Homo sapiens: one gene and its partner. The protein of the gene in region 2 purifies or fractionates together with the protein of the main gene of each other region. This does not show direct contact. Each region holds a gene or a part of one and is shown on either strand. Other genes may lie near its edges. The genes, in order: PRMT2 and MTFR1.

What was found.
Region 1: the proteins of MTFR1 (region 2) and PRMT2 purify together in Homo sapiens (co-immunoprecipitation; one large-scale study listed by IntAct). This does not show direct contact.

Annotation. Positions count from the first base shown.
Region 1 is NC_000021.9:46,648,970-46,652,988, reverse strand, and holds part of PRMT2 (protein arginine N-methyltransferase 2), read right to left. Parts: intron 3,415-4,019; coding exon 3,250-3,414; intron 1,184-3,249; coding exon of another isoform or gene 983-1,183; exon of another isoform or gene 145-982; coding exon of another isoform or gene 1-144. UniProt on the Homo sapiens protein: Arginine methyltransferase that methylates the guanidino nitrogens of arginyl residues in proteins such as STAT3, FBL, histone H4. Acts as a coactivator (with NCOA2) of the androgen receptor (AR)-mediated transactivation.
Region 2 is NC_000008.11:65,679,234-65,682,733, reverse strand, and holds part of MTFR1 (mitochondrial fission regulator 1 isoform 1 precursor), read right to left. Parts: intron 691-3,500; exon of another isoform or gene 654-690; intron 382-653; coding exon 283-381; intron 1-282. UniProt on the Homo sapiens protein: May play a role in mitochondrial aerobic respiration. May also regulate mitochondrial organization and fission.

The DNA of each region.
Region 1 (4,019 bases), on a different chromosome or scaffold from region 2:
TGACCTTGCAAAGCGTCCTGAAAGGTCCAGGAGGCAGCCCCTGCACCTGCAGTGCCACTGGCTAGTGGGAGACTGCTGAGTGTGCAACCTGCTTCTCGGAAATCGTGGCGTGGCCTCAGGAGAACAAGCAAGATCCTGTAACAACTAATGATAACGCAAATTAGGGCTCAATTGTCACCTGCTTTGTTAACAAAAATGATTAAATGGTCTGTTGACAATCTAGGACACCTGTGGTATCTTTACTTGCGTCTCCTTCAGAACTTTGCTGCTTCTGGAAAAACAAAAAAATTTTAATGCTCTTTGACTTATTCTGCCCTATTTTCCTTCAAAAGGCTTTACCAATTTACACTGCCAAAAAAAGGGCATGGCGGTGCACACTTCCCCACAACCTCAGCATCGGGAGCATCAGATATTAGAGGATTGCTCAGCCAACTTCCCAGGTCAAAACTATTACAGTTACTTTCAAATTGTTGGTGGCATTGAACAACGTTCAAGCTCCTGGCCTCTGGCATTTCTCTGCCTTTCTAGTCCCTGCTCACCTTCCATGAGGTTACCTTTATCTTATGCTTTTCTTATTGCAACTCTTTACGTCACACAATTCTTTAGCTGCAATTCTTTAGTTGCATTTACCATTTAATAGTTTTTAGCTGTGCTAATGTATGAAGGGGAATTTTTTGTCAAGTATTTTATTTGACAGCTTCATTATGAACTTGGTTCTTAGAAAAACCTTTCCCATCCTAACAACAAATAAACTTGTAGCAATTTTTTTGTTTCCTCCTTTTCTTAAATATTTAACTCTTGAGCCCATCTGAGGTTTATTTTAGCAGATGGTGTGAAGAAGGGCCTCTTTTCTCCAAATCAGTCGTTCCAGCACCATCTCTGAACAACTACATGCCCTTGCTGCACTGACTGAAAGCTGCCCCTCCTATGCTAAACGCACATGCACTCTTCTCTGTCTTCAGACTTTTACTACATGTCAGCGTCAGAGTAGGAAGATGGGCCAGGAGAGATGAAGGCCTGAGGGCTGAGGGGCTCTGAGAACAGGCAGACAGCAGGCAAGGAGGACATGAAGAGGGACAGACGCACAGGTGCAGGGGAGAGGCAGACAGCAGGCCAGGAGGACGTGAAGAGGGCCAGACGCACAGGTGCAGGGGAGAATGCGGCAGCTCAGGAGAGGCGCAGCCTGGGGACGGAAAGTGAAGGTGGGTACAACCGCACCAACGACTCCCAGATTCATACCCTCCCTCCCTCAAATCCGACCAACCCTGTGCCCCAACAACTATCGCCATAGGAACTCTTGCAGCCCCGTCTGCCCTGTTCTGGGCCTCCTTGGCCTGAGTAATGATGGTGGTGGTCCCTCAGTCTCCCTGGGGGGGAGTCTGAAGTCGGAACTGCCTCAAGCCCTCACCTGCAAAGCTCCGCCTTCCCCCTCCACTGCCTGCACTGGAGAAAACCACCACATGGTCCTGTCTGACTCACCCCAGCACTCCTCCAAATGTCCTGCTCAGGGTGGCCCCTCCAGGCCATCGCCCACCGAGACCCCAGGCCATGTCCCCACTGCCCAACCAATAGCTGGCCCTGCACATCGGATGGGCATCCTATGTTCAAGACCCACACAGATGTCCACCCTCCCCAGGGCCCTCCCTACCCCGGCCCCCAGCCAGTCCTGGTGGCCCACTCCCTGCGGCTCAGGGCTGGGAGGCACCGTCCTGCTCACGCCAGGCCCCCATCAGCACATCCTGCCTGCTGGCCCTGCTCTGCATCCCCCACACCTGCCCCATGCCAAGCCCTGGCTCCTGCATCCTGACAATAAAGCCATGGTCAGTCCTGGAAGTCTGTGCACCTCCCACACAGAGGGGCCTCCCCTCACACAGAATGTCCCAGGCCTCTCTGCATGCTGGGGCTGGACCACAGCCAGTCCCTGGCCTCCAGTCCCGGCCACACATACCCAGGGGCCTCCAAAACACAGCCCACCTCTTACTCCATCACTCACACACCAGTGGCACTCCCTTCGGTGTCCAGGACGTGGCACAAAGTCCTCAGACACACAGTTCCCTACATCTGGCCTCTGCCTCCCTGATGCAACACAGTCTGGCCAATCCGGCCACTGGGCAGCCCTGGAACACGGCAACACGGTGAACACAGTGGCTACTCCTCTCCCCTCCCTCTGCCCCACGTCCCTCCTGTGTCCCTCTCACCCAATCCAGGGCACAGCCGGACACTCCAGCAGCCAGGCTTCCCCGTATCACCGCCCACACAACCTTGGCCTCACCACAGCCTCACTCCTGCTCTGTCCTCTTTTTGTCCCCGTGGCCGGGGCACCAGCTGTCAACAGATACTTATTGAATGGGCGCTGCTGTTCAGGGCAAAGGCAAATGCCCCTTCAGGGGGTAGGAGTGGAGCCCGTTTCTCCTGTGTGTCATCTTATGGCTCCACAGATGTTATTAATAAGCCAAGTCACAGCATGGACATTGAGTCTATTTACATTTATCTTCTGACAACAAAATTTCAACAGGACTAAAAGCCCAATGCCATCTGTTACCAGGGGAAACCGTTTCCTGGAAAGCAGCAGCCATACTCCACACTCCTTCACCCAGACCCCATCTTTCTGGGTCTCTACACTGAGACAAAGTTTCAGGTTGGGATGCTCCACTACAATGTCCTGTGTCCCAGGATGCTGAGCCCAGGAAGACAGCGCGGGCAGACAGCATCCAGCCACACTCCCGTCAACTTCCCTCCAAGCAGACAGCGTTTGTGCAGGGCATATTCACAGGCAACCAGAAAACAGTCCACTTCCACCCACATGTGAAACTCAGGGTGAGCAACCCTGACAGGACAGGCATATGCTGGCCCTACAGATGCCCAAGTGGCTTCACAGCATCACTGGGGCCAGTCTAAGGCGAGGAGACCCTGGCCAGGGACGAAGGCCCTACTGGCATTAAAGAAACAGCCTTACCTGTTAGGCACAGGATTTTTACAGATCCCCGAGGAGAACACAGTTCATGTAAATCACTCATGAAAATGTTACATGAACTTTGACTTAAATTTCTCATAAAGGCATTTTTTAAATCAGGTGAAAATTCAAGACACTGAGCCAATGTCCACACAAGAAATTAATTAGACCTCACATTAGGGAAAACATCAAAATGAATCACGCACGACCCTTGAGATCCTGAGGTTGGCCCAGCCGAGCCCGTGCTCAGAAGCCCCCCAGCTCCGGCCCCCAGCTGCCCGCACGCCCGCCCTCACCAGCAGGCAGGTCCCCATCCACTCAGACACCAGCACGTCCACCTTCTCGGGCAGCACCACATCCTCCACCTTCTGCTGGTACACGGTGATGATGTCAGCAAAGCCGTTCTGCAGGACCAGCTGCCCCGTGTGCTGTGCCATCTCACTGGCCTCCACCGCGTACACCTGCAGCAGCAGAGGCACCGTCAGCGTACATCCGGCCGGCACACGGCCCGTCATCTACTCTCCTGAGTCACAACCAGCATCACGAGAAATGGTCAATGACACAAGAGGGAAGCAGCATTCCAGACAGCAGAGGCAGCGAGGACTGGCCACACCTGCCCCTCCAGGGGCACCCAGAAAGGAGCCGCCTCTAACCCTCCCAACTGCCCCCACCTCCCGGACAAGACACAGACGCAGGGCTGCAAGTGGATGGAAGACTCGCATGCCCGAGCCGGCTGCCACACGCACAGCAATCTTAATCCATGACCAGCACAGCAACTTCTTAGCACCCAAGTGACAATGCTGGTCTGTGCCACATCTGAGGCCTGTCAGACAATTTCAAACCCAGGTTCTCAGGGAAGGGTCTGGTGGGAAGCACCCAAGCGCTGGGTCCTGGGTCCTGCAGAGCCTGGACTTGGGTGGACACTGTGCTGCGACCCCACCCACTGTGTAAGGAGTCTCCAAGGCTGCAGCTCGGCTCAGCTCAGCACAGTATAGACGGCCTAAGAGGGGTGGGGAGGGGGCCCAGCGTGTGCATCCCTCCCAACCCCATGAGACCAACCACACCC
Region 2 (3,500 bases):
TGAGGTCACCTAGGAATTAACAACTGCTTAGCTTATTATATGCTCCTAAATCTTCACATATGCATCCTTAAGAAGGATAAATATCTTAAAAATCTCAATCACGTCACAGAGAAACTAAAATTAGAAAGGCTTTACTGTGGTTTTTAATCCTCTTCTATTGTATTGATAGTGGCATCAATTGGTGAAAAGTCTCAAAAACAAAATGCTTTTAAAACCATCTTGCCTATTTATATTTCTAATGTACATATTAATAAAATACTTAAAATATATAAAATATAATACCTGAAACTGAACTCTTGGACACTGAATCAGAGACAAATTAGTACCAATTTTCCTTACGATACTTCGAGACGAACCATATGGCTTCCTAGACCAAAGTACCTGAGGAAGTAGGAAAAACCGAAAGCTTAATTACAAGATGTACAGAACTGTTAAGACAAAGCATTAGACAATTATTTGTATGACATACTAACACATTAATTACAGGATCAGAATGCTCTAAATGTTATGGCAAATAAGCTAATGTTTCTCAATCCAAAAATAAAGAATATATAGATAGATAGAGAGATAGATATTATTAATTCAATAAAGTTTAATGTAAAGTATTATATAAAAATATAAACTAGCCAGTAATTTTTAAATACTATACTTACAGTAAAAATTTTATTTTCATCAGGTTTTCATACTATTCTGCAACAGAAACACTATTTTATCTCTTCTGCTATATTTTTAGTTTTAGAATTTTGATATACATAGTTTTTATTAAATGTATGTTACTTTTGCTGTTACACACTTTTCAAAACAATCCCAAATTAGTACAAAGTTCAGAATCTGAATGTGTACCATGCAGGGTGCTCCATGTTGTTTGCTGCACAAGAATGCTTGGCCAAGGGTGAGCAAAGGCTGAAATCCAGGCATATTGCTCTTGGGAGGCCTGCTCCCCAAAGGAAAGGTAAGAAATTTCATCTGAGCAGAATTTCTCAGATGAAATCATAATAAAACAGGACATTATGCTATGCTTAAAGACAAAAACAAACCCTCAAAGCAAAAAAAAAAAAAAAACAAAAACAACAAAAAGCACATGTGTTGAATGTTAGGTAAATCATTATAAATTGTACCTTGAAACTTCTCCCCAAGTATATGACCCCTCTTTAAAGGAAAAACTATTCATCTGTTTTGAGTGCTACACTTGAAAGCCTGGACAGAATAAGTAAAGAAAGGTAGTATGCTATTAAAAGCAATTTTAAAAGAAAAGAGTAAGAATTATATGACTATTATACTTAATTCATCAAACTTTAACATTCAGTTATGTAAGGCCAGGTGCGGCGGCTCCTGCCTGTAATCCCAGCACTTTGGGACACCAAAATGGGCGGATCACCTGAGGCCAGGAGTTCAAGACCAGCCTGGCCAACATGGCAAAACCCCATCTCTACTAAAAATACAAAAATTAGCCAGGCATGGTGGTGCACACCTGTAATCCCAGCTACTTGGGAGGCTGAGGCATGAGAACTGCTTGAACCCAGGCCGGGCGCGGTGGCTCACGCCTGTAATCCCAGCACTTTGGGAGGCCGAGGCGGGTGGATCATGAGGTCAGGAGATCGAGACCATCCTGGCTAACAAGGTGAAACCCCGTCTCTACTAAAAATACAAAAAATTAGCCGGGCACGGTGGCGGGCGCCTGTAGTCCCAGCTACTCGGGAGGCTGAGGCAGGAGAATGGCGTGAACCCGGGAGGCGGAGCTTGCAGTGAGCCGAGATTGCGCCACTGCAGTCCGCAGTCCGGCCTGGGCGACAGAGCGAGACTCCGTCTCAAAAAAAAAAAAAAAAAAAAAAAAGAGAACTGCTTGAACCCAGGAAGCGGAGGTTGCAGTGAGCCAAGATGGCACCACTGCACTCCAGCCTGGGTGACAAAGCGAGACCTTGTCTCAAAAATAAAACAAAATAAAAACTCAAAAAACAATTATATTCTAAAGACTAAAAAGAACCAAATCAGCTGAGTATGAATTCTGGAGAAATGGATACTACCACTTTTTTAAGATCAATCCGTGATCATTCTACTTTAAAGAATGAAATTACCCCAATATAAACAAACAGCATAACCAAACAACGGTTCACTGTAAACAGTGGAGGCTCCAAAACCTAACTCAAACTAGACCCTTAGATAAAAGCATATACAACTTATAAAATGAGCACAGAAACTATCTGATTTCTTAAATTTTAGCAATCAAGTCCAATTCAAGGATAACAGTATGAGTCAGTGTGGGGTTCAGGGCTGGGCACAGTAGCTAACATCTGTAATCTCAGTGCTTTGGGAGGCTGAGGTAGGAGGATCATTTGTGGCCAGAAGTTTGAGACCAGCCTGGGGTCTTTTTGTGAGACCGCCATCTCTACAAAAAATTGGAAACTTAGCCAGGGGTGGTGATGCATGCTGTCATCCTAGCTACAGGAGAGTCTAAAGCAGGAAGGTCCCTTGAGCCCAGGAGTTCCAGGCTGCAGTGAGTTAGGATTGCACCACTGCACTCCAGCCTAAGCAACAGAGTGAGACCATGTCCCCCCGCCCCCCAACCCCTGAGAAAAAAACCAACAAAGTGGAAATCATAGAAGGATATATAATACCCCTGGCACCTGCCATAGCTTTCATATAATTTTTATCACACATTTTCCAAAGTTTCACTGAATCTTACCTAGAAGAGTTCCAAAAAGTACTTATAACCTATACTGACTCCAATAACCAACAAAAATGATAGCTCTTGCTTCGGAAATGTAAATAAAAAGGATGGCAAAGATTAGAAAACTGGTAAGTAGAAAGGAAGATAAAAATATTAAAATATGAATAGTATACAAAGAATGTTAAGAAGCAAAGTTACTCTGAAGCTTAGAAGAAAACATCATTCACATCAATAATCATACAGGATTATGACACAAGTAGTCTTAATAACGTGAGGACTAAGGGAAAGGAAAACATCTGACTAGAGAAAAATGGGAAGCCTCGCAAGTTCTACAATGTCAACATCAGACTACCCACCAAAAAAAGAACAAACATGGGCAAATAATTCTAAGACAGTATTTAAGCAAACTTTTTACCTTATTACTATTATGTATTTATTTTTGAGATGGAGTTTCACTCTTTCGCCCAGGCTGGAGTGAAGTGGAGCAATCTCGGCTCCCTGCAACCTCTGCCCCCTCCAGGTTCAAGTGATTCTCCTGCTTCAGCCTCTTGAGTAGCTGAGATTACTGTAGCTGGGATTACAAGTGAATGCCACCATGCCTGGCTAATTTTTTTGTATTTTTAGTAGAGACGGGGTTTCACCATGTTGGCCAGGCTGGTCCCGAACTCTTGACCTCAAGTGATCCACCTGTCTTAGCCTCCCAAACTCCTAGGATTACAGGCGTGCACCACCGCACATGGCCCTACCTTATACATTTTAATAGATCCTGTTCTTTTACAAATAAATCCATAGGGCAAAAGTAAGTATACCATTCAGTCATTTCTCTTCTTGA